Linked DNA regions of Homo sapiens: all the other regions are linked to region 3. The links come from fine-mapping of genetic effects on gene expression. A gene starts in region 3. Each other region holds a variant in brackets. All regions are shown on one strand. Distances are between the middles of the regions.

What was found. PIP is the estimated chance that this variant, and not a neighbour inherited with it, causes the effect.
Region 1: its variant is fine-mapped to the expression of ZNF385D in testis (GTEx, PIP above 0.99).
Region 2: its variant is fine-mapped to the expression of ZNF385D in nasal epithelium (TOPMed, PIP 0.96).

Annotation. Positions count from the first base shown.
Region 1 is chr3:22,368,655-22,376,841 of GRCh38, forward strand. It overlaps a transcript of ZNF385D not described here. Among named protein-coding and RNA genes, the nearest start is that of ZNF385D-AS2, 420 kb to the left of the region's middle. The variant C/A (reference allele first, on the strand shown) is at 3,748.
Region 2 is chr3:21,702,571-21,710,757 of GRCh38, forward strand. The region is part of intron 1 of ZNF385D (zinc finger protein 385D); the gene reads right to left. Among named protein-coding and RNA genes, the nearest start is that of ZNF385D, 45 kb to the right of the region's middle. The variant C/T (reference allele first, on the strand shown) is at 3,221.
Region 3 is chr3:21,748,110-21,756,296 of GRCh38, forward strand. ZNF385D (zinc finger protein 385D) reads right to left here and starts at 3,101. Exons shown (of 8, transcript NM_024697.3): 1 at 2,786-3,101. The coding sequence starts at 2,807.

The DNA.
Region 1 (8,187 bases), 620 kb after region 3:
ACAAAGAAAGGGTCCTCATCTCTTCCTCATCTTATAAGAGCACTAATCCCATTACAGGGGCTCTACCCTTATAACCTCATCTAACCCGAATCATTTCTCAAAGGCTTCACCTCAAATACTATCCCATTAAGGGCTAGGGCTCCACAATATCAGTTTGGGGGAGATATAAACATTCAATCCATAGCAGGAAGACATCACTAGCTTTACCAGGCTCTAAAAAAGTAGAAGTAAATACATTTTTAATTGACTAGAATGTTTTAAATGATCTCCCGTGTGTCATCTACTTGTTCAAAATATAAATTACACTGGCAGTTTTTGGGTGTGTAATCTACAGAAGTTGATCTCAGCTTCCTAAGTGGCAATTTAAGCACTTGCTTGATTTTCAACTCACCAGCTTTATTTTATTCAATTTCTCACTTTAGAGTCCTTGTCAGAAAACTAAGAAGTACCATCTACCTTGAGTTCCAAGCTCTTGAAACATTCAAAATTACAGATCCTTTTCCAATATTAGTTTCTTCAATCTGGGATGTCAGTGTGACTCATGTTTATGGAGCTTAAATTACCTTTCAGAGATCTGGTTGTTCAAATCACCAAATAATATCAAATAAAATATTAGTCCTATTGTTTGAATATGAAACAAACATTTTTAAAACAGTAGAAAATACATACATGTGATTATAAGGCTAACCATTTACAAGACTCCCATTGTCATGAAACATTTTGCAGTTTGACGATTCAAGTTCATAATTAGTTTCATTATTTTAATACTCTTCTAAGGTTAAATATGTTAGCTACTATAAAAACCTCCTTAACTACTGCCAAAAAATAAAACAACTCTCTAGGCAAGTTATTATGAGACATGTAGATTTATTGGAAACAGTAAGATATCATGCAAATACAATGAAACATAGTAAATTATCGTTAATTTCCCCAAGATTTTCTATTTTCCAAAGCTGCTCCCAAATTTGGAATATTAATAGCATTAGCATCCCAATGGGTTTATACAAATTTTATTTGATAATTCCATTCATGTATGGATAAATGAGATCTGTGACTTAAAATATATCATCACTCTCAAAATAAAGTATAATTACAGCTAGTGAAGAAACATGACAAAGTTATCTTACTTGTTCTTACTCCTACTTTTAAAACCTCAAAATCTTTATAGACAGTACTAACATTACTTAGCTGAAGAACTCATAAGTACTGAATTTATGAAGTTGGAGATTATAAGAAAATAATGGATACTGTATACTCAGCTACCTGCATACACTTAGCAATGAGAAATGCAACATTTTAATTAAATTACAAAAAAACTAAGTTAGATGTGACTCATCTAATCTTCGTTACTATAGATGAAACACTGTTTTCTTGAATTGCAAACATTTTCATTATTGAACTTTTGATGCACCTGGTAAATAGCAAGTCACAGCAGGGGTAGTAATTGTTTTGAAAATACTGTTTAAAATAAAAGGGAAATTTTAAAACAAGCTGCTTGTACCTCTTAATGGAAATTTAAAATCCTGTCAGGATCTGAGCTTTAATTATAAGCTGGCTGAAATATGGAAGTGTTCATGTAGACCTCAGGATAACTCTATAGTCACACAAATATGATGTTAGCACCAGACATGTTTGATGTTATAAATCACACATTGTTAAGACAAGGGCTATAATGTAGCACTATTGATTTACAATAACAGGACTCAAAGAACGTCATTCAAGATGAACACTAAGATCTCAGTGTTCTGCCCTCTCTAAAGCTGGCAGTCCGAATTATATAAGTGCCACACAATTTTTATTTTATTTCACATCTACAAATTCTGCATTCTGTTATATTAAATACCTGAAATGGTTGGGTATGAATCAATCTATGGTATTACAATCACTGTATGAATTTTTCATGGAATTAAAACTTAGAGAGGTTTATTGCTCTCATTTTTCAAGTGAGGCTCAAAGAGGTTGTGTAGGGGTTAACAACCGACTTTGGAGTTCTGCAATCTTGGATTACAAAACACTAACTGTGGGACTTTTCCCAATTTAACATCTCTAAATCTCCTTTTCCTTGTCTACGGAATGGAGATGGTAACAACGCCACCTTCTTGGGATTGTTAGGCATTTACGTTAGCTGTAGAGTTTGGTGTTCAGTGAATGGGAAACACATTTTAGGTGTTATTATTATTAGGTAACCCCAAAGATCTCTCAGCCACATTGTCATAGAGCAAAAATAATTCAGAAGCCCCGATTTTTGCCTCAGGTCTCTTTCTCCTAACACAGACAACTTCCAGCACTTCATTTCCTTAAATCTGAGATAATACATTAACTCAAGATGTTTGCCCATTCCCCTAGTCTACATTTTAGCTCCATGAAGAGAGTGCTCAAGTTAATTTCTAAAAAACATCTGGAAAGAAATGTGAAGAAATTGCAGCAAAGCCCGGACATGCTGTGTTGCATCAATCTACATAATTTGAAATGACCCATATTTGCCTTTCATGCTTAGAGACCAGAGTAGTGTGACTGAATTACCAGCATAGGCCAACGAGTGGCACGACAACCCAGAGGGAGGAAGACCTTTCCAGTAGGTTTTAGAAAACATCGTGAACCGGAATTCAGTGGTCACCTGAAAGGCACATTTCACAGACCAGCTAGCAAACAGACTCAGCAGAACAGAGATGATTTCCCCACCATATTCCGGGAACACCGCAGAATTAGCATAGAACAGCGCCAGCTCTAGGGTCCTTAGTTACACCTACAGAATGTCAGATGTTCTCAGTCAGTTCAAGGTTCCAGAATTGAAGACACTCCAATGCCCAGAAACCACGCATCACTCGTTTGAAATCACAGACCAGCTCGGGCTAAAGCACTCATCAGCACAATCTCCAGAAACACATGAGGTGGACAAGCCTGATTGTAAGGGGGACAGATCTGGAATTGGGCATTTCACACAGGGTGACACCATTTTGGAGGCTGCAGGTGTCCTCTGACCCAAATTCATACACACAATAAAACATCTCCCAAAATGCAAGAGGTCAAAAGGTACACAACTCTGTGCTCTCTTCTAATTTGCTCCTCCAGGTACTCAATGGAAGCGTAAAAAGAGGCACTAGCTGGCCAAGAAGACAATCAGATTCAGGAGCCCTGGCTTACACTCAGCCTCCCAACCCCACCCTAAATGTCAAAGTGATTTCCTTGGAGGGACGCTTCATATAACTCAAGAGCTTCTCATCCTGCCCTCAAAACGCGTGTATCTCAGGTTTTTTTAAGTATTTGTTTTAAAAAGAAGAAGAAGAAGAAGGAAATGAAAAGGAAGCAGGAAGCTGTCCCGCTGTGTTTCTTTATCCCAACAACTTCGCCAGGTTTCCCCCGAGGAGGGAGCACGCCTCGCACACACCCAATGAAAGACAGACAGCAGGACGTCCTTACCGGGTGGCCCAGCCCTCGACTCTGGACAGAACCAGGCTGACCTCGCCCCCCCGCCTCGGCCTCCCCTGCCCCTTGGTTCTCGGCAATGAGCTGTGACCTGAGACCCTCCAGCTCCGCGCTCTTCACTCTGGCCCCGCAACCTCACATCTCTTCTCCTTGGCACCGAGAAGAGGCTGGGGTGTGTGGACCGATAGTGCGGGATACCGAAAAGGTGGTCCAAGGTCTGGGCGGTGCGAACGCCCATTCCGCGCCCCCCATGCGAGCCCCAGCCCCTCGCGCCTGGTATCCCGCAGGGGCGCAACCCTAGCTCCTTGCCCGGCGCCCCAA[C/A]GAACTCCGCCACCTGAACCGAGACACCTCTTTTTGCACTCAACTTACCGCGGCTGGGCTGAGCTTTCGGCGCCCCCAGGAGCTTTTCTCTCCTTCCTCCCACCGAGCTCTTCATTCTCCTGCTGGCGGCCGCCCGGCGCCCTGGCCCTGGCATCCGGGAGGAGCAGCCGCCGGGGCTGGCTGTCCCGGGAGACGCACGGCTGCCCGCCTGCAGCTTCAACGGCGGTGGTCGCCGCGAGCCGTGAGCGGCGGCCAAGGAGAACGGTCTCCGTTGCGCAGCGCGTGCTGTCCCTCCGGCACGGGCTGGAGGTGGCAGTCAGCGCGCCTCTGCCTCCGCCGCGCTCGCGGCGCTCCGCACGAGTCCCGAGCCGGCGTCAGCCCAGGTGCACCAGGCTGGGGAGAGGTGCGAGCCCGCGCGAAGGGAGGGGCCCGCGGCCTGAGGGTGCCGGGAGAGAGCGAGACTGATGACCACGAAAAAAGAAACCTGGAGACTAGAGGCGAGGAACTAGCTTTAATGGAGTGAGTGGGTCGTGGGTGTTAAGTGGAAACACGAGGAGGCGAAATGCATCTAGAAACTACAGATATCGGAAATGAGCTTGAGTGAGCTGCTTTTTGAGTGAGGCTCGAAAAGGGGGCTGTCATTTTGTGCTTACCTCCTTTATCCTCCTGGTTTGGGTGCAGTACCAGACAACAACTTCCCCCACACTCTCAACTCTCATATTTAACTATAAATAACGCTAACCTCAACAATCTTGGACAGCAGACGCAACGAAATCTGGTGAAGCTACTGCAAGAATACAGGGGAGTCCCACATCCACAAATCCCACATGCCCATCCCTCTGGAAGGACCCATATCCTACTGAGATTTCTCTCCTCTTACCTGTCTGTCTCCTCTCTCTCTCACAAGCACACGCACTCACACACTACGGTACCCTAGGGATGAAATCACACGCACGCACACACTACAGTACCCTAGGGATGAAATACCTTTTGTTGCTCTGTTCTAGGACTTAAAGTGGGTGTTTCTCAAACTTTACTTTGCACAGGAATAACCTTGGGATTTTATTACAGTTCTGATTCTGATCCAGTAGATCTGGAGTGGGGCCTGATATTCTGTATTTTTAATGGTGTGGCAGAGGCTGCTGATTCAAGAACCATATTTTGAGTTACGACACACAAATGAACAAACCTGCTTTCTAATATCGGCTGAGCCATTATTTGTAAGATAGTCTGAAATAACAAAACAAGCCCCGTTTTCATGGGGTTTCAGGATGCTGTGGAGGCCAAATAACTAATGAACACAGTGCCAAAGGATAAAATACCCTACAGGCAAGCTTCTCATTATTGTTATTAATAATTACTCCTGATAAAATCATTACGAATACTAATGCTGATGACAGGGTAGAGAGATTTTGGTAATTTACCATTCTACATTTTCTCAAGAGAAGCTCTGAAAAACAATCCACAGTGACCACCCCACAAACACACCCTGATTTAGAAAGAAAATGTAAGTAATATCCTCTAAGGGGCAGTCTGTTCCTCCCAGGAGGCCATCGTTGAATTTTCCAGACACGCAGCGCTATTCAAGTGTGTATTAAAAAGTAGCCAAATCACTTATTAACCCACAGATAAGAAGAGCAAATGCCAAGAACAAAAAAATAAAGACAGAAATATAGTCAATGCACCAAAAGATCTGTTGTGATTTGAATTAGCATGACTGATAAGTTAGTTTGACCCTTTCTCTTTTTCCATGCTTTCATCTGAATGTAAACACCCATCCTTCTATTTCAATTCAAGAAGTACTTACTAAGCCTAATTTACCATGGTAAAGGCCTTTCTTGGGAGTGAAAAAAAACTCGTCCTGCCCCTGCTTTAAAGGAGAAATTGGACAACATACCAATAAGTGCCGTATTAGGCAGACTATGGTGCCAGAAGAGAACACCAAACACATTAGCAAAGTTCAAAAGGCAGTGAAGTCTGGAGATACTTCATTGAAGGGAGGTCATTTGACAGAAGTCTTAAGATATGATTTTCTCTGACAGAGATAAAAAGGAAGGGAGTAGTCTATAGTCTACCCTTCTACCCAGAGCATACAGTACATGGAGGAAGGTAGAAGAAATGATTTGGAAGATGTCAAGTGGGGCTCTAATTGCTAGCCTGGGCAATTTGTACTTCACTCCAGAAATGCTGAGCAGGGGACCTCCATGACCAGGAATGTACCAAAAAGATTAATCTGATATAACAGGTTCATAAGATGATCTAGAACCAGAAAATAGTAGAGCTGTAGAAAGCATTTAGGAGGCCGTGGAAGCACTAGGTAAAAGATCATGAAGGTAAGAACAGTGATAGCAGCTGTGGAGAATGAAATATAAGGATGTTTAAAAAGAGACATTGCTGAGATGTAACTAACAACGTGCAGCAATTACGTGAAGAGGCATTTATTAAAGATATCTCTAACTTTCTGTCCCTGGAGAACTAGAAAAATAGTGACACTTTTAGGAGTTGAGAACCCAAGAAGGGAATTTACAGTTGTTCAGTTTTATTTTAATGTTTGTTTAGGAAAGGTTGTGAGATAATGAGTTCTCTTTAGGCAGCTGTAGTCAAAGGTCTGCGGGAGATGTTCAGGTGGAGATCCTTATACATCTAGAAATTCAAGCTTTGCTCTATGGAAATGGTTCTGCATTAGAGCCTGTATTAGCTCTTGTGTTTTAGAGCTCTGGACATGTGTATGGAGTTCAACTGTTGGGAGAATGTGAGGTTTATGAGGTAGAATATAGGAAGCAACAAAAGTACTCAGGACAAAAGCTTAGAGCTATATGACCTCCTTGTTTCTCAATATTCTCATCTGTAAAATGTGAAAAATAGTACCCTCCACATAAAGTCATTATAAGGATGAAAAATAATGTACTGATTTTTCATTGCAATTTATATTTTCTACACTAACCTGCTCAGTCTGAGAGGGCAGGGACCATGCGTATCCTCTTAACTGTTACAGCCCCAGCACCTGACTGAGTGCTTGGCAGATAATAGGCTCTAAAAATGTTCGTGAATATTTTAATAATTAATAAGTTAATTATTAGATTAAAAGAAGAAGGGACACCAAAGAACTACCAAAAAGACGGGCGAAGATACAGTCATGGGTTCTATTATTTCAATGTCATGGAAACTAAGTTAGGGAAAATTTTGCTCTAGAGATGGTCAGGTGAGCACAGAGAGATTAAAGAGAAAACATGAATACACATTGAGAAAATGCCTGTTGTTCAAACCTGAGTGACATATTTATCTTCAGTTTCTCTAATATGCTAATTTTTTCTTGTCTCAAGCTCTTTGCATATACTTTCTCCCTTGAATGGGCTGAACGTCTTTGGAATCCTTCTTATTTTTTATTTTATTTTATTTTTTTGAGACGGAGTCTCGCTCTGTCGCCCAGGCCGGACTGCGGACTGCGGTGGCGCAATCTCGGCTCACTGCAAGCTCCGCTTCCCGGGTTCACGCCATTCTCCTGCCTCAGCCTCCCGAGTAGCTGGGACTACAGGCGCCCGCCACCGCGCCCGGCTAATTTTTTGTATTTTTAGTAGAGACGGGGTTTCACCTTGTTAACCAGGATGGTCTCGATCTCCTGACCTCATGATCCACCCGCCTCGGCCTCCCCAAGTGCTGGGATTACAGGCGTGAGCCACCGCACCCGGCCCTGGAAAAGTTTTTTAAAAAGTTAATAAACGTAGTTAGCCCATACTCCTTTTTTCTTAGATTGGGTTATTCAGGAAACAGACTCTGTAGACATGGAAATTAGTGTGCAGGATTATTTGCTGGGGAGAGCCATTGAGGTCAAGGCATGTGAGAATAGAGCATGTGGGAATGGGTAAAGCTACAATACAGTTTCAACACTGGCCTTCTGTCAATCTCACAGGAGTTCTGGGCTGCATTGGCCCTTTAGAGTTATCCTGAGCTGATGACAGGGAACCAGGTCTTTGTACCATTGCAACAACCAGTCTTTTCTAATAATCAGAATTACGTTCACATAGAAGCCTGAAGAACTAACCTGAATGAGAATTTGAATATTTTATTATTACTATTTTATAGCAAACAGAAGATGACTACATTGAATGCAGCAATTGTTTTAATAAGCATTATTATTTGCAAGGCACTGTAATGGGTACTTTGGGGGAACACAAATGTACTTAAAATCATATGTTTGATATCATGAAACTTAAGAAGTAAATGATGTATACAGAAGTAAATTATCTGTAAAAGGAGGATAATAATAGTATCTACCTCATAAGGTGAATATGAAGATTAAAAGGTCTTCACTAAGTTAAATATAAAAGTATTTGCTTTTTTGCCCTAGCTATAATAGGTGGCACTGAAAGATTTTGTGAAAAAAAAATAAAAGAGGAAAAACAAGTTGCAAGAAGCTCAGGGTAAGAAGTTTTCACTTTA
Region 2 (8,187 bases), 46 kb before region 3:
ATTTCTCATCAAAAAATGGGTTTTTCTTTTCGACTGCATCATCAGGCTGCAAATTTTCTGAACTTTTATGCACTGTTTCCCTTTGAAAATGGAATGCCTTTAACAGCACCCAAGTCACTCTTGAATGCTTCGCTGCTTAGAAATTTCTTCCACCAGATACCCTAAATCATCTCTCTCACGTTCAAAGTTCCACAAATCTCTATGGCAGGTGCAAAATGCCACCAGTTTCTTTGCTAAAACATAACGAGAGTCACCTTTGCTTCAGTTCCCAATGAGTTCCTCATCTCCATCTGAGACCACCTCAACCTGGACCTTATTGTTCATATCACTATAAGCAATTTTTTTCAAAGCCATTCAACAAGTCTCTAGGAAGTTCCAAACTTTCCTACTTTTCTATATTCTTCTGAGCCCTCTAAACTGTTCCAACCTCTGCCTGTTACCCAGTTCCAAATTCACTTCCACATTTTTGGGTATATTTTCAGCAACGTCTCACTCTACTGGTACCAATTTACTGTATTAGCCAATTTTCACGCTGCTGATAAAGACATACCAGAGACCAGGAAGAAAAAGAGCTTTAATTGGACTTATGGTTCCACATGGCTGGGGAGGCCTCAGAATCATGGCGGGAGGTGAAAGGCACTTCTTACATGGTGGTGGCAAGAGAAAAATAAGGAAGAAGCAAAAGTGGAAACCCCTGATAAAACCATCAGATCCATGAGACTTAATCACTATCACGAGAATAGCATGAGAAAGAACAGCCCCCATGATTCAATTACCTCCCCCTGGGTCCCTCCTATAACATGTGGGAATTCTGGGAGATAGAATTCAGCTTGAGATTTGGGTGGGGACACAGCCAAACCATATTAGTGTAGCTCAAAGATAACCATTCTTCTCCTTGCCCAGGATATTGTGCAATCCCTTGGTTGCCTCAAACCCTTCCCAATCATTGTAAATAACCCCTCTATTAAAATGTTTTCCATTACACAGTTTCAGCACGCCATTTATTTCTTGCTGGGTGTGTAAAATAAACTTTTTAAATAAAAAAGCAGTTACTGCAACCTTGTAAATATAGCTCATGCTCTTTATCCTCTTACAAAAAAAAAAAAATGGCATTCTCCTGTGTAAAGACACCACTGTAGTTCTTTTTTCATGTTGGCTCATGAAGCTGGCCATTATGCTGGTGAGTTGGCCAAATATGTTGTTATTTGTAGCATCTTCTCTTCTTGACCTTTGGGATTAAACTGAGCCCAGGCACTTACCTAGCAATAGCTGCTACTCCTGTATGGTCAACTCTCACCACTTTCTTCCCTACACCATACACTCTAGCACTATGCAAGTATTCCTTTAAGATCTTCGAACATGCCAAACTCCCTTCAGAATCTGTGTCTTGAGCACTGTGCTATAGGTTGATGTTGCTTTGTAGGGCCCTGCCTGTTTATGTCTTTTACCAACCACAACCACTGAAAAGAAATTGTTGTGCCCCTTTTTCATATGCTTTTCAAGTTAAAAGCAATGCTCAATCATAAAAGACAAAACACATATTTGGAAGTTAGAACAGATTACTCTAGGGTTTTTGCTCCCATGTAAGCTCCCTGAAACTGAACTTATTTTTGAGGTGACATTGCCTTGCTGCTGTAACTTAGCTAGTGGTTGGTTTGCCTACTCAGTCAGCCACCAACGTTCCTCTTTGTTCTTCAGGATTCTACTCAGGTCCTGCCAATAGCTATTGCTAAGTGCTGAATTCCAGATGAAAAGCCCTGCTTTATGTGTACTTGCAACATACTGTGTAAACCCCCTCAGAGTCCCGAGCACACATTCCTGTAGTCACTGGGTTACCTGTCTTCCCCTTGAATACCATTCTTCATTTACTATCCCTTTCCCTACCCCATGTTATTTCATAGCCTTTACCAAAATCTGATATTATTTATTTTATTTTATTTTATTTATTTATTTATTGAGACAACGTCTCGCTCTGTCACCCAGAATGGAGTGCAGTGGTGTGATCTCGGCTCACTGCAGCATCTGCCTTCCGGGTTCAAGCGATTCTTTTCCCTTAGTCACATGAGTAGCTGGGACTACAGGCATGCACCACCAGGCCCAGCTAGGATATTATTTCCTGATTCATTACCTTTTTCTCATACTAAAGTAAAAGCTGCATTAAATCATGTTTTGTTCATCACAGTATCCCCAGTACCTAGAACAGTACCTGACACATAGTAGGTCCTAAATAAATATCTATTACATGAAGGAATAAACTATATAATCTCACATTTCTCACATAGTGCTAGAAAAAGTAGATACTTAATAAGTACTTGTTATAAGCTTAACCCTAGCATCCCTCTGCAGTGGGGTGCTATGTCATATATTTCCAAGAATATGTCTCATATGGCTTGGTGGTAACCATGGTAAACTGCAGAGGCCCAAGTCATCTGTAAGGGGCAGTTGGGACTCAACTCCAGACATGTATTATCATTCAAGAATGTAGGGTTCGTGTTGCCAGATCTTCCTATGTTTGAAGAAAAGCCAAAAAGCTTGTTTTTTCCATGTTAAAATCTATTCATTTTAAAATGTAGCAATGAATTTAAATTATTATAAAATATTGTATGAACCAAATGAAATATCTGCAAGTACAATGCAGCTGGCATGCTATCAGTTTAAGAACTCTGACCCAAATCCCTGCTTAATAAAATGTACCCATAAAAGAAGGCACACTTAGTAAATATCAATACCCTGGACTAATAAGCTCTTTTAAAAACATCAGAAATATTTTCTTGGTACAGATTAAGAAAGGGCAGCAAGTTCTCCTATATTTATATTTTTAAAGAATGTTTTCTTATAGAAGTCCCAAAGAGCATGAGACAAAACTGCAAATTAGAAACAACTAATTAACTTGAAATGAGCAAAAGTGAATTCTACCGTGTTGAAAACTTATTGATCTCAATGATCCTACAGCTTTCAATTTGTGTAATGTAGTCTTCTACCTACGTGGGCATGGGAAGGCAAAGAATATGAGAGTAAGAGGACTTCCTCAAAGGTCATTTCTTAATCTCTTCATTTTACACCTGGGGAAATTAAAACTAAGAGAATAAAAGACTTGTCCATGGTCATATGATGGCAGAGCTGAAAACAAAACCTTCTCTGTGTTCCATTGCTTCTTTCCACCACCCCCAAAATCCACTTGCTCCCACATGCCTCTCCTTTGGTTCAGACTGTTTGCATT[C/T]GAGGTGGATTTTGCTGTTCCACTCACATGTTTGGATTTGGCTGTCTGGACTGTCCCTTGCTTCCTGACCCTGCAGTACCCAGTAGCTCAATTCCTGCCACTCCCACACCAAGCTCTGGTTGCCAAAGCCTCAGCCTGGGACATGTGCCCAGATGAGCTCAGTCACCAGGAAGAAAGCATGACTCGATCAATGATGGCAAAGGTGGGGGTGAGGAGTGGAAATTTACCATCCCTGTACACGACAGAACATCTGATGCACTACTTTGACTCCTCCAAGGGTCTAACTCACTCTCATATGTCTTGTCCTTAGAATAGTTACTCATTGGTTACAGGACTAATAATGACTGTAAAATTGGCTTACCTTTCTCAAAGGACAAAAACAGAACAGATTTCAATGAGGACATACAACCTTATGTGATTTCACACTGGCAAAACAAAACTCTTGTTGAGAAATTTGTCCTTATCATGCAATCAGCTTTTTTTTTTTCCTAATAGCTTGATTGAGATACAGTTCACATATCATACAAATCATCCCTTTAAAGACAATCAACTTTTGACAGCTCACGTGACATTTTTACACTGGGATCAATGAAGAACCATATATTTCTCCAAAAAAAAGTACATCTTTTGGTAAAAACTACAGTGATGCCAGGAATTAATTTTGCACAAGTTGTAGCATACTTACAATTTGAGGAGACAAAAGTGAAAATTGTAAGAGCTTTTCCTAAGTTGTAGCTGGCCCCTTAACTAGAGGCAGAAACTGGGGCTTAGGAAACATGTTCTCAAACTCATGTCTACTTTATAATGCTACCATCAGAAGTGATCAAGGACCAGGATGGTTTATTGCCATTATTAATCTTCTTAGGTAGAAAAGAGTCAGTTATAGTTAAGACCAATACCCAGAAATGCATTACTTTGCATGCACCATGTACATGAAGGCATCTGTTAAGGTAACAGAGCACCACATCACCTAACATTCCACTTCTGAGAGAGCAGCATTTAGATAGACACAAAGATAATAGATGATAGATAGATAGATAGATAGATAGATAGATAGATAGATAAATAGATTAGACAGATAAATTCTAATCACAGAGACAAATCAGGTTTAGGAAAAGGACAGATTATTTTCTTCCTCCTTCTTCAAGTAGCTGCCTCAGCCTTCATCCCTCTGTATGCGTAGATACATCTACGGGAACAATTTGAAATGCTTGATGAAGTTTAAGTTCAAAGGCTTTCAGTAGCTTACCTTTAATAAAACCCAGATGTGATTCAAATTTGAGTGGGCTTTACTTGCCAAGAATATTTGTTATTTTTTTTTAATTGAGCAAGCTGATGAAATGAATCACACTGCCAGGAGAAAAGGATGCTTAGTTAAATAGTTATTATTCTTTTTTAATAACTCCTATTTAGATTGGCTTCATTTTGTGACTTACAAATCACATCATCTTTATTAAAGGCACTTAAAATATTCAACATGAAATGATATTCAGAATGCTTGATTTACTATAAATTGTGCACAGGTGTGGGATTGTTTACAGTCCTTTGGTACAGTAGGAAGTCAAGCTTTCATTTATATTTCATGGTGCAGTAAGCACCGTTTAACTTTGAAGTGTTAGGATCATTACCAGGAGGCTTAAAATTCGAAGCAATTGTCAATGCAGATCAAATTTTAGACAGAACCCCCATCCTGATATCTCCTTTAATGACATTGTGAGTGCTTCTTTGTTAGAATCTTGAAAGGGAACGAAAGACCTCTACATATAGAAAATGTTTAAACCCATAAATGCTCTAAGGAGAAAAAATGTTGCAGATTACAGCAGTGTATGCTAATATGAGCAAAACCTGAAATGGGCTCTCCTGAGATGGCAGCATTTGGAAAGGGCATGGTCAATTCGAATATAGATATAAATTTATACTGAAAGTGAGATCACTTGAGAATGTACCAGTTTCTTTAATGCTCTTGGTTAATATTTCCAATTAGTAATATCTATTCCCTTGATCGGTCTTCAAAGATGGGAAAAATACAAACTGTAGAAGATGAAAGATCTGTTCTTTTAAAATTTTAGAAGATGAGAAGTGAGTAAGCAGGATTATACGTGTGCATCTGTGCTTAGTGACCTGAAGTCACTTAGTGGTGATGCGGAAGGAGCTCTGAGCTGGGAACAGACAGCTGGATGTTTTAGTCCTGGGTCCGGCACTACGGGCATGTAGGACTTTGGAAAGTAACAATCTCTATGTGACTCAGTTTCCTCATCTGTCAAAGAAGCAGCTAGAAATGATATCTTCATTTCCTTTTTGCTCCAAATCTCCATGACAAGCCAAGTTCTAATATTAGGTCAAAGATCCTAAGCATCAGTTTAAATTTGTTGGTGCTTATAAGGAAAAAAGTAAAAGGAAATCAGTCTTTCTGGGTTAATTTTAGCTACTGTTACTCAAATGGGCAGCAGCAGTAACTGCTAAGAACTTATTATGTTCTAGGCCTTGGGCTGGGAACTCTGCAAGCAGTATTTCATGTAACGCTTACAGCAACACAATGAGGGTGGTGTTATTTGCTCTCAGCTAGAGTAAAGTAACTTACCCAAGATGGCACAGCTCTTAAGCGGAAGAAATAGGATTTAAACTCAGGTAAACTCAGTTACTCTTGCCTAATGCCACTGCTCTGAACTGTTATTCCCTCCTCCTATAATTTATGATTCCTGAATGTTCCAGTCTACTTATTGGCTTCTCCTGACCCATGGACATTCCTCACCCAAGTCCCAAAATGTGGAAATAAATTTGAAATTACTCTATTACATTACTAAATTTTAAAAGATGCTTTCACTCCTTATCATTTTCTATGTTTTTACAGATTTTTTGTATTCAATGTTAAAAATTATTTTATTACAGCTTGGTTTGATTCTCCCCTCATTCTAATATTTTTATTTTGTCATCAACTTTCATAAAGCAATACATTTAGTTTTCTAAGAATTTCAACAGATTTGCATCAGTAGACTTTGTTGGTTATTTTTCCTTTCTAAATCTGTTTAATTAAGCCAATAATTAAAGCATCCGAAGTGTGTGTGGGCGTGCACACACACACACACACACACACACTAACAACAACAATAATATACTGATCTTAATGTCCTTACTAAAACTTAACTATCATAAGGCAGTTTCTCCTTAAAGGCAAAGGTTTGTTTCGAAAGCTTCCATGGTAGAAGAAGCCACAGTGAGAGATTTAGGAACACATGGGTAGATTGGAACTTAGGTTGTAATTAAAACTCTCACAGGCTCAATACTTCCTCTCATATTTCTTAAAATAAAATGCACAAACCACAAATATGGTGCTGTCAGTAACATATTATATATTTTACATGAGTATTAGTGGATACCATAATGTTTATTTCCATTTTCCATCTCCTTCAGGATCTCACGTTCCTTTCAGAAACAATGATACACATAAATTCACTGTGCTTTGATGAAGCAGTGTACTCAAAGGCAGATATATTGTGTTTTCTATGCTAATCTTCCTTCCAAACATTCAATGACTTTCTAATTTTTCGAGCCAGAGTTGTCTGTACCTGCTTTTTACTAATAATTTAGTCCCCATGAGTTTCCAGAAACCCTCTCTAACCCTAAGGTGACTGACCATACTCTTAACAGAAGCAGGGGTTCTCTCAGGCAACTTCATACCTCCTGAGGCTTCTATGAAAACAAAACAAAACAAAACAAAACAAGACTCACCTTTTTCTTTAGCCTCCTTGTCTACTCTTAAAGCATCAATTTCCCAAGTCTTTTCAATAGAAGTGACTCTTGAATGATATTAGAACTAAACACCTCAAGGTTAAATAAACTATAAGAGAAAAACATCACATACTAGTTTTAGCAGAAGAAAAGTCATAGATAAGAGGGACGCCTCTATATGTTTTTTCAATATTTATTGTAAAAGTAAATTCAATAGTTTTCCAGTTTTGTATAAAGTTAGATATACACTTAATATATGACTCAGCTGTCCCACTCCTAGGTGTCTTCCCAAGAAAAGTAAAAACTTTACGAAAAACCTATTTGAAGATGTATACGGTGCACTCTTTATAATCACCAAAAACTGGAAACAAACTGTCCTTCAATGAAGTGAACAGATTGACAAGCTACGGCACACCCATACGTGGAATTCTTCTTAGCAATAAAAAGGAACGAGTTATTGATACACAAAACATGGATGAATCTCAAGGGCTTTGGGATGATTGAGATGAGCCAGTTTCAAAAGACTACATACTCTATCATGGCTTCAATTACACGACCTTTTAGAAAAGGTAAAACTACAGAAACAGATATCAGACAAGCGCTTTCAGGAGTTGGGTATGGGGGTATGGTTTAGAATAAAAGACATGAAGGAGTTTGGGGGAGAAAATGGAACAGTTTCATATTTTGATTGATGTGGTAGTGGTTACATAGACTGCATGCATTTGTCAAAATTTATAGGACTAAAGATCAAAAGGAGTAATTTACACTTTTACGAAAATAAATAGATAGATACTTGCTTTTTTAGTAAATTGGCTCTGCAAGACCCAATGATCTGGTGAGACTGGGGTAGGGTGATATGGTTAAGATTACCTGTGTAATTCCTAAAACCCAATTTATTTTTTATAAAGTTCAACTGTATGGCTTTTTCTGAATTCCTTAAGGTGCACTGGCTTCTTTTTGTGTTTTTCATAATCCTCCATAACCTGAGAATCATTCGATGCCACAATGCATATTGGTGAGCAGTGCCCAATCTGTACTGCATTTTAAATTAGTATGTTACAGTCCTCGCATTTTCTCAGCTTTGATGCTCAGTTGTTTTTACTTATACTCATGCATGTTTGGGACAAGATATCTTAAACCATAGACAAAAAAGGATCTATGATAATTCTGCAGACTTTTAGTGTTGGAAGCAATATTTAAGGTCTTTGAAGCATGAATGCTTGAACATCTCCATGTAA
Region 3 (8,187 bases):
TCACAGCACAGGAAGTACAAATGAACGATTATTGAAAACACTGCACTAAAATCTCAATAGGAGATAAGAGTGAGGCTTAAGTCATTAGAAAGCTCTATTATTCTGGCAAGTCTGAGACAGCACACTACAAACATGAGCTGTTCTTGAGATCTGAAAATATTACATCTTCCACCAACTTGCACACACACACAACTGACTCCAACTAAGCAAGGGCAGGGTCCAGTTGTCCAGTCCCAAGGGGAAGGAGGAATGAATTGAAGCAGATAGGCTGAGCCAGGCTATTCAGGTAGTGATTCTTCAGCTATATTTGAAGGGGTGGGGGTGGGGGGCAACACTGACAAATCAGATGATTTATAAAGGAAGTAAATATCCCGCTTTCATATCAATTCACCCGTACCATAGCATCACCATGCTCTTCATCACGCTCTGCTGGGGACACAAATAAAGGATTTGTGACATCTCTACCCCATTCTCACAAGTCACCAGAAAAGCCTAAGAATGCAGCATTGCTTTCCCTTTGTCCCTGTTCTCCCTGACTTGATAAACCATTTGCAGTTGAAAAATGAAGAAGAAAGTAATGGCCAACCAATTTGCAAAGTGAAAGCATTGCTTGGAAAAATTACCTGAAATCGCTACAATTTTGAACACGCACACACATTAAGATACATACACATGTACACATATATGTGTGTGCGTACATACATACATATATAAATACATAGTCTTCAGCATTTTCAAACATTAGGATGCTATTGAATTTTAACATGCCTGAAGTGTACTGCTCAATTCTTTTTGCCCTCGCTCTTGTACCACACATTTTTTTTTTAGAGACAGGTGGGCTCCCAAAGTTGTGGATATCTAACAGCTTGTACGAGAAGCTGCATAGCATAACCCGAAAGAAACAGCATTCCTGAATACATAGGATTTCCTCTGGGAGCAGAAAAACATTTCTTATACCAAAATTATGGTAAGACAATGTTCAAGACACTGAGGGCAACTTTAGCCTTGCCTTTCAAAGAGTAGAGTTTCATCTAAAGTAAGTAGGACATCACATTTCAATTCGTACTATTAAAAACTTGCATTACACAATGAAATTGATTACCCTATGAATCACTCTGCTTTACAAGAGGCTGAACTAGCATACAGTTAATAACACAAGCTAGCCCACTGAACATTTCTCCAATAGTCACACGATAATCCAGTCCAGCATGGATGGCCTTTGACCAGTACTTTTAGACTCTACTGCTATTCTAATTGGCCCTACTTCCTCACGACGATCACATAAGGAATTGTTTCAAGAGGGTGAAAATATAAACTAAAATTATAATCTGTTTCATCATCCTTCAGTATCATTACTGATGCTGAAATTGTATTTTGTCCAAAAGACCTATTATCTTTACAAGCTTTTCCATTTATGAAAATATATGCATGATAAACTCTGTTAGTGGCCAATAAACAAGCTTACCACCTCCATTACTACCCACTGGAAAGAGATGGTTTTTAACTACAGATTCTGCTTAAATTTGGCAATGCAATGAAATTGTTTCTTCCAAATCATTTTCAGCTATTTTAAGACTTCTCTTCTAATATGATACAAATTATAGGCAAATCAAAACTGTCAAGACAACTAAAGGCATTTAGCTTTTGGAACTTAGATTCCTTCCACACACTCTCAAGTGTCTCAAAGCCTAAAGGAAACAAAACAGAGCAAATAGTACATACAGAAATAAATTTCCAACAAACTAATAGTGCCCCAACCTAAGTTTATCTAAATACCTCTTTAATCTGAAAGAAGACGCTAGATTTAATATTTAAAGCAAACCAAGAAATCAGAGCATTTGCATCTTGGATACATTTCCTAGCCCCTCTCCAGTTGCTCTATCAAACCTTTTAATATCGCATAGATGCCCTTAAATGATGACGCCAGATAGGACTTACAGAAGGAAAGCATAACTTCAGAGAGGAGGAACAAATATTCAGTCCTTATCTTTGACTTCTTCTTATTTAGTGAAGGGGCTTGCCTCCTGTACTAGCAGTAAGTTGCGGCGTTAGAGTGCAAATGCACAGCTCCAAGCCCACTTCCAGTGCTCAACTGATAGCTCGGATCCAAGCCTCAACATGCTTTCTGGAAATGCAGGCAGCTCAACTGAAAACCTAACTGAGGTTTCTACCGTGGCACAAAACTGACCTGCACAAATATTTGACATCTCCGAGACCTCTAAAGGTTTCAAATAATATGCATTTTGTGCTAGGCTGCTCCTAGCTAGACAGAGCACTGAGATGATATAGAGAAGTGTTCTCAGCTGCTCAACCACACTGCTCACTAGACAATGTTTTCCTTTTCCGCCTCAGAACAAGAAAAACCAGCAAATACTGAATGAAATGCTCATATTGACTAAGCTTTCACAGCATCAATTGTATAGAAACTTTGTTTCACATTCCATTAAGTTAGCTCATGACTTCCCACGCTGCACTATTTCTCCTTCACCTAGCTAAAAGAGCCAACTTCATTCAGGCAAATCAAGGCAAAGTTTACCCCCCCGCCCCCTCCACATGTCCCTGTCTCTTTTCTTTTCCAACTTAAACTCATCCACGGCTAAATTAACAGCCCCAGTTGTGGCACAAAGGAAGCTTTGAAGGCTGCACCGGCTTGGTCCTCCAGTTGCCAACTGGAGGTAGGTTTAATGTAACATATTCTTGCTGCTTAAAGAATTTTTTAAGGGCTTGTCTGCACGGATGAAGAGCCGGACACCCCCAGAATTACATCATCAGAGTGAACACTCACCAAAATACATTATGTTTCTCATTAATCAGACAGCTGGAATCCCACCGCGGTGTCTTCAGCATCAGCTCTCACCCAAGGCTGGCACGTAGAGCAGAGCCCTTTCATGCTACATTCGGTGGAAATGTCCCCGGCGTGGAGAGCAGTGAGCGCCGAGAGCGTGCCTCCTCCGCGGGATGAGCGCCTTGCAGGCTGCCTTTCCAGGGCTAAGATCCCCGGCGGCTGGAGAGTGCGCTCGGGCTGCCTGCTGCACTGCCCATCCTTACTGTAATCCGACTCCTCCTTGCGATGTCCTTGCCGCGCCTGTGACATCAGGACTGAGAGTACTACAAGCAGACCCCTCCACCCCACCCCACCCCACCCTGGGTTAGCAGCCGCTCCACGAGGTGCTCCGACTGCCTGCCTGGACCAACCATGGCTCTCGGGAAGCTTTGACGAGCCCAGAGACTTGGGAAGGGGCGGAGTGAGGGGCGCGGGAGGCTCTCTTAAAGCGAGAAGAGTGTCGGGATCCACACAGGAACACACAGGAGAAATTCACCACTGTGCAGGAGGGACGTGGTTAAGGCGAGTTCTGCCATTAACGTGTAATTAGACAACACTTTTACCCCGCCCCTCCTGTGAATGCCACCATTCTCTCCAAAATTTAACCTCCTCTACCAAGTTAAAACGGCAGTACGAAGAGGGATGGTGCCGTGCTTGCATTCTCTTTGCTGTGGGCTTGAGGGTTTGTTGTTATTTTTTGTGATGTTTATATATAAGAGGAATAAAAGGAACGCCAGGGACCACTGCTAGGGTAATAGAGGTTCACACTTAGAAGTGATCACATCCCAGAAAGCTAGTACTTGGTGAAGTGTAATTTTTTATTTCTTGAGTGTTCCCTGAGCTATTATGTTGATAGAAAGATGTGAAGAAAAATAACTGGTGATAAAAGTCACCTCTCAGTTGCCCAGGACCAAATTTGCTGCCTCCCTTAGTAGGCAGGTAGAAAGCACACTGAGGCTGAAATGATCTTTGACCTCCTGAAACGGAGAGACGATTAGCCTGAAAGGCAACCAACATTGTGCCATAGTTAGAGTCCAGTCACCAATATAATATAGCCACACACACACACACCCACCCCCCTCCCCCCCCCACCACACACACACACAACGCTCTCATTAAATTTGAGATGAACGGTCAAGAAAGGCAAAGCTTAGCAAAGCCTCTGGCTCCTCCAATGGTATAATGAATTGCAGTCCTTATCTTACATAGAAAAGGATATTAGAAAGAAATCCCTGAAAGCTGTGCTGATTAATACTTAAATGCACAGCATGGAAAAAATAAACTCATACAGCAAGTTCCGTTTCCTAAGGACTCATCACTTTGGGAACCAATTTACGTACTGGAACATTTGAACTTATAAATTTCTATAGACATTTATGAAATTAAGAACCAAATATAAACAAAGAACTGTAGTCTATGGAAGAATGCAATTGATATATTTTTAATCTGGGCTTTTATAAAAGTGTGATAGCAAAGATTTCTACATTTTGATATTAAAATATTCTATAGCATTTCCTTACGCGATTCTATATCTCTTGGTGGATTTAATGTGCATAGAAACTAGGGGGCTGAAGCTCATAATAACGGCTTTCTGTGCAATCTTGCATAAAAGCTTAACTGTATTCTACCTCTGTGAAGAGTGCAATGAACAATATCCTCTCTCACGCTAGATTATAAAGAATTTGGTGAGTGAAAGTAGGTAAGCAAATATAAATCAGAAACATCACAGTGAATCTTAAGATAAATCTAGGGCTGTTCTTTTAGAAATACTCTTAATTTAAAGCCACCAGAGGAAAATTTACATAGTAAAGGATATTAACTTTTTTACTCCCTTTTAAAAATTAAAATAAAAACAATGTTACGGGAAAGTATTGAAGAAAATGCGTAAATGTTTTTTCCTTTTGGACAAATGGAAATTGTCCAAAAGTACAATTAGTAGTTCTTCCCTCAGGCAAAAGAACCATCTGTGGTAGAGCTTATTCATGAAGCCTGTAAGCTGCCTTGACCTCCTACATGTGCTAGGGGGCACTGTAGTTTAATGTTAGTGCTTTGGGTCCATTTGAGTTCCTGTAGTTGGAAGATGCAAGCATTGAGAGTTGAGTTTCAAATAGGAGATTTGAAACATTAAAGGACTACCTTAATCATTAATAACACGCTTGCATTTGCATGACATTTTACAGTTAAAAGGCACTTTCACATGTCATCTTTATTACTAACAAATTGAGATATAGAAAGGTGGATATTACAGATGTCACAAATGAAGAACCTGAGGCTCAGAGATGTTAAGCAACTTTCTTAATGATGTGATGAGTAAGAAACAGTTGTCTTACTATTTGTTTGTTGAATTTATATTACAGTTCTCCAACAGGTTTCCTTCTTCAAATAAATGTGCTATTTATAATGGCTCAGGTAAAAGTCACCCCCAATAAAACAATGTCACTGCATGTTCTAGAAACAAATATATCTATATGGTCACAAATACATCAGCAGGGAGCATCTGGTAATAGAACATGCCAATCTTTGCCTGGTAGTATACCCCAAAAAACAGCATGTAGCCTTTGAAAGAATATGGCATTCCAGAAACAATTGAGTGTAATATCTATACAATGTAATTCTGTTCAAACAGAAAAGGAAGATGCCCTTTTAAATTAAAGATATGTGCCCCTCTTCCCTGCAATTAAGGCTTATCTGGAATGTAGAAGCTTAAGATACAAAGTTGTTTATCTCTGGATGGAAAACAAGTGATGTTTGTTTTAATTGTATACTTTTTCCTGTTTTACATAAAACTATTTTATTTATTTGTATACATTTATTAAAAAATGCAACTTTGGTGGTTGTTGTTGTTGTTGTTGTTGTTGTGTGTGTGTGTGTGTGTATTTGCGTTTTGTACTTTGAGCAACATCTCCCTAATACTCTCACCCTGCAGCTCTGGTAACCATTTTATTCCTGTTTCTATAGAGTTTGACCTTTTTACACTCTACATATAAGTGAAATCATTGGGTATTTGTTTTTATGTACCTGGCTTATTTCACTTAAGACAACAATGTCCTCCAGGTTTATCCATATTGTCACAAATGAGAGGATCTTCCTCTTTTAAAAGGTTGAATAGTATTCCATTATGTATATATGCGACATCTTTGTTATCCATTCATCCACTAGTGGAAACCTTGCTTGATTCCTGTGAGTAATACTGCAATGAACATGGTAGTACACACATTTCTTCAACATATTATTTTTTTTAATTTTGAAGCATAATAATTTCCAAATGAAACCACAGCTGATCTTGGCTAGATAGAGGATTGTGAACATGCCAGCTGTGCCTGAGAGATGCTTTCATATGTCATCTCAAGGGAGCGACTTAGCAGCTTCTAGGGAAGAATCTGGTTCACACCCTGACCTTTACCTGTCTCTAAGAATCTGTGAGAACCTAGGAGCTTCTGAAGGTGAATTAAGTCAGTTCATCTGGGGTCAGCTGTAGCACCAACCTGCTTGCCAGATAAAATTATACCTAGCACTATTAAAACAAAGGATGCCTTCAAACCACTTACATATTTTGTATTAAAATATCATGGTTGGGTGAAAATTTTTTCTGTGTTCTAAGATCCGGGTAGCTGCCTGCCTTGACTCCTCATCTCATTCAAATATTGCTCAAAGGTTTATCAGTGTACTAATTCACTGTCTTTTTTTTTTCCAGTTTTAAAATGCCTTTGTCCCTCCCCTGACATTTCTTAACCTCCTTTCCTCCCTTATTTTTCTCCATGGCAACTATCATCATCTGACACACTATTTTAGACGTCTGTTTATTTTTGATTTCTCCTCACTGGAATATAATCTCAGTGAGGGCAGGGATTTTATCTGTTCAATGCTATATCTACAGTTCTTAGAAAGGTACCTGCTACTTGTCATTATACAATAAATATTTGTGAATGAGGGAATGAATGAATGAGCATCCTAAGTACAGCTGTATTGTGTGTAAGACATCATACTTTTCTATGTGCCTGAAGTCAGTTCTTTGAGGTTGGTTGTGTTTTGTGCAAAGTGTTCACACAAATTGAATTTGTCCATGCTTAGCAGCAGCTGCTCTTAAATTCCATTCAGTACAGATGCCAGATGGTACTGCAGGCCACAGTTTGTGAGTGTGTTTGTCCTTTCAAATTCTCATAGCTGCATGGAGCAGAGACTTAGATTCAGCATGAGTTAGCATAGCTCAGTTGTGTCTTCCATTGCCTCGCCCTTGGCTTTAGTTTAGTCCACCTTTATCTTTTATCTATATTGTAGCAATAAAATTGTATCCAGTGTTCCTGATTTCAGACTTGCCCATGTCCAATTCATTCTCCATATTAGATCCATTATCATCTTTAAAAATGGTATGATCATGCCACTCCTTTGCTCAGTATTCTTCACTGTTTCCGTATTTTATCCACCAAGGTCGTTAAGGTTTTCGACAACCAAGTCCCTATTCGCTTCTCCATTTGTAAATACTTTGTCCTTCACACTCTTCACTGTGTGAAACCTAAAGTATGGCTATAATTCACCTGAAGACTACATTCCCTTTCACCTGCTCTCTCTACTGAAGCAATCTGTAATCAATCTTTGGGTGTCTGTTTAAATATTATGTCTTCTGAGAACATTTTTCTCACCAAAAGACTAAATGAGGTGTTGTTTGTATTCTTTTTCACATAGCACACTGTACTAATTCCTACTATAGCATTTAAACTTAGTGTGGGAATTTGCCTTTACTTGTATGTAACCCAAATGAAAGAGGATTTTCTTTTTTAACTCCATGACCTCATACAAATCCATCGTTTAATGAACAAATTCATTATTTATCTATGAATTCATTCAACATTTTTGAATAAATTTAACATCTTATGAATGCCTATCATGTGCCAGGCATTACTCCAGGTGCTGGATGAAGAACGCTGCAGAAAGTGCAAAGGATAAATGGGGAATACACCTTATGAGTGCCAGGAAGAACAACAAGGCCAATATGCTAGAGTAGAGTAGATCTTAAAAAGCAAACCAAGAGTTGACTTCAAATAGGTAAGATGGAGCCAAATTCAGTAGAACTTTTTAGGCCATTAGAAATACTTTGACTTTTATTATGACTTACATGATATAACTTTGGAGCAACGTGATTTGACATGCTTCAACAAGTTCACTATGACTGACGTATGAAGAATTGACTAAAGCGAGCAAGGACAGATGTAAGGTGACGGGTTAGGAAGCCTTTGTAGTAATCCAGGAAAGAGAACATGGCTTGGACCAGGGAAGAAACAGTGGCGGTAGAAAAAGTGGTCAGATTCTCTACATGTACCAAAATGGGTCCACAGAATTCTCTGGTAGGTTAGATAAGCAATTTA